Linked DNA regions of Homo sapiens: region 1 is linked to region 2. Evidence: fine-mapped expression QTL. Tissue or cell type: whole blood. Region 2 holds a variant in brackets; the other region holds the start of a gene. All regions are shown on one strand. Distances are between the middles of the regions.

Region 1 (2,757 bases), 52 kb after region 2:
GCCTGCCTGGTGACACACCCGTGGGCGGCAAGTGAACCAACCTGCCCTCCAGCGACCTTTCCCGTGATTATCGTCAGGGGCCCCGCCACCACTCGGCCTACTGCGTTGAGCTTCAGGAAACCATTCCTCAGTTTACTGATAAGAAAACTGAGGCCGCAGCCTTCGCGGGGCAGGTCCTGGGAGCTGGGAGATCCCGGCGCCATCCTAGCGGGGGCCGCACTTACTCTCCGAGTCGCTGAAGCCGCTGCTGTCGCTGACACTGGCGCTGCTGCGCCGCTTCATGCGCTCCAGGTGCTCCTCGTAGTGGAAGTGGCGCTCGTGGAAGGGCGACGCGAAGTCGGCCAGCACCGCGTCAAACTCGCACAGCGCGTCCGACAGGTCCTCCGCGGCCGCCGAGTCCAGGGCCGGGGCTGCGGGCAGGGCCAGGGGCTCAGTGCACGGAAGTCAGGGGGGCAGCGGGACCACCTCCCAGGGCCAGGAGGGGCCGCCACGGTTCCCGAAGATAACTGACACTTGGCGCCTCTGCCAAGTGACAGCCACGCAGTCGCTGTTACCTTGTAATCTTCTCCACCACCCCCGAAGTGCGTTCTATTACCAAGTCCGTTTTACAGACAAGAAAACTGAGCCTTCGCCAGGCCCAGGGTCACCCAGCGACTTGGCGCGGCCAGATTCCTCCCCAGGCGCTGCCGGTTACCTGTCCCCGCCGCTCCCCCCAACCCCGGGCGCGCGCGGAGCTGGTGGTGGAGGGAAGGTGGGACATGGGGGCCAGCCCGGGCCGGAAAGGAGGCTGCAGCCGCCCGCGCGGGAAGACCGGGGACAGGTTCCCGCCGGGGAGGATGGAAGGGTGGGGGGTGTGAAGGGACGACACGGGGCCCCTCCTTTCTCACCCGCCATCTGCAGAGCCGAGACTTTAAGGGGACCCCGGACCCCGCACTCACCTGCGGCCGCGGCGGCCGCGGGGCTGCCCTGCGCCGCGGGCGGCTTCATGAGGCGGCTCAGCTGGGCCCGGCGCGCGTGGCCTTGGGTCCTGCGAGGTGGCAGCCGGGGCTATTCGGGGGCTTGCTGTCCCGCACACTTCAGCCCTGCCAGTCCCTTCGGCGCTGCGCTCCAGCCGCGCCGCTCCCAGCACGGTCCGCGCCCGCCCTACCACCGGCTCGGGTTCCTAGATCTTATAGCCTTCGGCGGCCGGAGCGGAGGCGGGGCCGGGGCGGGGCTGCGGAGCCGGGGCGACGGGTCTGTCCCCGCCGCCCTCCGAGGAGGCCCCTGCCCCCAGGCACCGCCCTCGCCACGCGCCCGCCCTGGAACCGCGGTGACGAGGAGTCGCCGAAGCCCCGGTTACAGCCCCAAATATTTACCCGCCTCTCGCCCCCGCGCCCTGACAACCCGGCCCACGCGGTGTCCTCGGCGTCACCAGAGCTGACTGCTGGGCGCGAGCTCTGCTGCTTCCCGCCGCGTGCCAGGCACCTCCGCGAGCCGCAGCTTCCTCGGCTGTGAAGTGGACGTGGGCATGCAGAGCCTCCCTGGCTGGCGGTGAGGGACGAAGGAGCCCGCGGCCGTGTCCCAGTCGGGTGTCGGGGACGCGGAGGTCCCCTACGCATTGTCCCAAGGGGACTTCCGAGATGGTGGGCGGGCGGAGTGGAGAGGGTCGGGGCGAGAGGGGCAGGAGTTGGGGGAGTCCTGAACTGTTCCCACCGCGGAGCGCGGGGGCCTGAACTACGGTCCAGGGCGCTCCCGCCAGCCTGACTTTATCTAGAAGGGGTTTATTATGGGAAGAAACTACTGCGTCGACGCAGCGCGAACAGGGCGCCTTGCAGTGTCCACGGAGTAACGAGCCACCCTGCCCCGCGGCCTGCGGGGGCGAACGCCCTGGACTGTGCGCTGAGCTAGGCGCTAGCCTCTCGCCTCTCACCACAGACGGCTAATTAAATGTAGAGCAATTAACATGTAACGGAGTGAAACATTCAGCCTCCACTCCCAGCTAGTTTTTGTATTTTTAGCAGAGACGGGGTTTGTCCATGTTGGCCAGGCTGGTCTCGAACTCCCGACCTCAGGTGATCTGCCCACCTCAGCCTCCCAAAGTGCTGGGATTACAGGCGTGAGCCACCGCACCCAGCCAGGATTTGTTTTCAGAATATAGAAAGACCCATCTACAAAGTAATCACAAATAGACAACCTGGTAAAAATTAAAAATGAGCAAAACATTGAAACATACACCTCACAAAGGAGTATATGTTAATGACCACTAATCATATGAATAGTCCTCCTCTCTTGTCTACTCTGGGTGGCCTAGGGATATGCTTGTCTTGTGGAGGCACAAGCACTGTGGGCTCAAGAGTGGGGAGCCTCTTTCCCTGTTAAGGGGAGGACACCACTGGGATCTCTGGTGCCATCTCCTGCAATGGATCCTCTGATGTGGGGTCGAACAGAACTTCAGGAGTTGATTTCCCTGGGTGAGTGGAGCGGGATCCTTCCTTAGCTATCTGTCCCTTTGCTACTAGTATTGCTGCTGCATGCCCTCAGCCACTGTGGGGGTTCTAGCACCAGCTGTCACCAAGTGTCTATGTATGGGAACTGGTCTAGGTATCTTTACCAGTTACCTTGTGCCACGCCTTAGAAACAAGGGACCTGTCCAGGCTTCCTTCTGATGGCCAACCCACTTCTAATGGTGCGCAATCTATTTCCCACAAGGTTCTAAGTTCCCCTGGTGGTCTAGTGCTTAGGATTCGGTGCTCTCACCGCTGCTGCCTGCGTTCGATT
Region 2 (2,757 bases):
TCCCTCTAGTCCTTCAGGTGGGTCTTTCCCCATCCTTGGCTTAGTTTCCTCACATATATTCTTCAGTGCTCACCATAATGCTCACGAGACCCCTCTGCAGACTTCCAGAGTTCTTTCTCTGGGCAACTTTGTCTCCTCTTGGGCTCCCCTAGATAGCTCCAGGGTGGAGGATGGTCACCAGAAAGGCCAAGCAGGATTAGAGGGTTGGAGCTTTCATCCCCACCCCCTCCCCCAACCTCCAGGGAGAAGAGAGGGGCTGAAGGTCAAGTTGATCACCAAGGGCCAATGATATCATCAATCATGTATATGTAATAAGGCCTCCATAAAAACACAAAATGCCAAGGGTGCAGATGAGCTTCCAGATGGCCGAACACCTGGAGGTTCCCAGAGGGTGGCGCATCCAGAGAGGGTATGGAAGCTCCGTGCCCCTTCCCATACCTAGCCCTGTGCATCTCCTCCCTCTGGCTGTCCATCTGTATCCTTGGTAATGTCCTTTATAATAAATGGCTAAACAGAAGTAAAGTGTTTTCCTGAGTTCTGAGGGCCACTCTGGCAAACTAATCAAACCCAAGGAGGCGGTCATGGGAACTCCAATTTATAGCCCATTGGTCAAAAGTTCAGGTCACCACCTGGGACTTGGCATCTGAAGTGGGGGTGGTCCGGTGGGACTGAGTCTTCAACCTGCAGGATCTGACAGCATCTCCAGAATTGAATTATAGGACACCTCCCAGCTGTGTCCACTGGAGAATCTGGTGTCAGGGGAGTCATGTTGAGTGTGTGTCAGAGCAGGCAAAACCGTTTGGTTTTTCTTACCCTGTAAGACAGGCCCACAGGAGGGTAATTCCTGCCTCTCTTAGTCTACTTTGGCAAGAAGTGGAAGTTCAAATGAGTTGTTTAATTGACTAGTGGATTTTGAGAACAAATAAAAGGCGGCCAAATTCTTCTGAAAGCTCAATTTCCTAATTAAGTTCCAAGTCTTTAATTTTGGAGGGGAATAGTCACCCCAGCCATTGAAGGCCATGTCATCTCTACTGTCCAGAAACACAAAGCAGAGATGTTTCACACTGTATGTCTAATGAATGTTGTAAAATTGCCTTCTTGGCGGTCCTAAAACCTTCCAGTGATCGCTTTTCTTTTCAAAATCCTCTCAAAGTCCAAGGAAAGGGGCCTTTCTTAAACTTGTAGATGTCAAGCGGACTAACCATCACCTACCCAAACCTTAGCCTAACACCTGCCATGTTTCCCACGGAAATAATGCACACACATAGAATAAAACTCATTAAGATGTTCATTTTAAGTGGTGTGCCCTAAGCCAATAGTCATGGCATTTTGTCTAATTTCACATCAGAGACAACTTTTGTGTCTGGTTTCTCAGCTCTTGTTCTGTTTCCTCATTTGTCTCTCCCTTGCTTTCTTCTTGGTTCTTCCTTCTCTCCTGCCTGGTCCTCAGAGGACCCTGAGTTCATTCATAGGAATTATTTTACCCCAGCTAGGGGTTGCTAGACAGCTTTTGACTCCACCTTAGAAGCCAAAATAAAAAGCAAAGAACATTAAAACTCACCTTTATCTGGATTCCTGATGTTTTTACTTTTAATACAGTAGTACATTTGGCTGCTTATTTTGGATCAGATGGAAAATCAACCCTTAGCAGAGA[C/A]AAAGGTAAACGGCCTTTGTGGATGGATTATTATGTGCTGATCTTTTACAAATAATAGATACGTAGAATGAGCAATCCTCGTGGAGCAAAATCATAAACGAACCTCCCCTTATAACCGTCCTGTTGGGCTAGTTCTTCAACCTGAGGTCAGGTTGACCTCAGGATTTTCCTGTCCACTGGCTTGACCTCAGATCATGGTCTAGAATACCAAGTAGCCTCGACATATGGCCCAAGCTGGTCTCGAACTCCTGCCTCAGCCTCCCAAAGTGGTGGGATTACAGGCGTGAGCCTCCACACTCAGCCAAAATGAATATTCTTAAGACTCAGGGTATAATTTCTGAAGCAAATTGTGCCAATTTATACTCTTACCAGCTATGTGTGAGGGTTTCTGTTTTAGTTCTCCTTGGTATTCTTTGAGGATACTTTAAAAATCTTTGCTGTAAGTCCAATTAAACCTTTTTCTTTTGTAAATTGTCCAGTCTTGGGTATGTCTTTATCAGCAGCGTGAAAACGAACTAATACAGTAAATTGGTACCAGCAGAGTGGGGCGTTGTTGAAAAGACACCCAAAAATGTGGAAGCGACTTTGGAATTGGGTAATAGGCAGAAGTTGGAGCCATTTGGAGGGCTCAGAAGAGGACAAAAAAATGTGGGAAACTCCAACTTTCTAGAGACTTGAATGGCTTTGACAAAAGTGCTGCTAGTGATACGGACAATAAGGTCCAGGCTGAGGTGGTCTCAGATGGAGATGAGGAACTTGTTGGGAACTGGGGAAAAGATGACTCTTGCTATGTTTTAGCAAAGAGAGTGGCGGCATTTTGCCCTGCCCTAGAGATTTGTGGAACTTTGAACTTGAGAGAGATGATTTAGGGTATCTGGCAGAAATTTCTAAGCAGCAAAGCATTCAAGAGGTGCTATTAAAGGTGCTGTTAAAGGCATTCAGTTTCCTGGGCCAGGCTCAGGGCTCCCGTGCTCTGTGCAGCCTAGAAACTTGGTGCCCTGGGTCCCAGCCACTCCAGCTGTGGCTGAAAGGGGCCAATGTAGAACTCAGGCCGTGGCTTCAGAGGGTGCAAGGCCCAAGCCTTGGCAGCTTCCATGTGGTGT

The links. PIP is the estimated chance that this variant, and not a neighbour inherited with it, causes the effect.
Region 1: it holds the start of RGCC, and the variant in region 2 is fine-mapped to the expression of RGCC in whole blood (TOPMed, PIP 0.96).

What each region holds. Positions count from the first base shown.
Region 1 is chr13:41,455,938-41,458,694 of GRCh38, reverse strand. It overlaps RGCC (regulator of cell cycle), which reads right to left and starts at 1,145. Exons shown (of 5, transcript NM_014059.3): 1 at 939-1,145; 2 at 225-410. The coding sequence starts at 987. RefSeq lists enhancers at 103-232, 282-959 and a silencer at 533-1,372.
Region 2 is chr13:41,508,072-41,510,828 of GRCh38, reverse strand. No RefSeq gene overlaps it. Among named protein-coding and RNA genes, the nearest start is that of RGCC, 52 kb to the right of the region's middle. The variant C/A (reference allele first, on the strand shown) is at 1,655.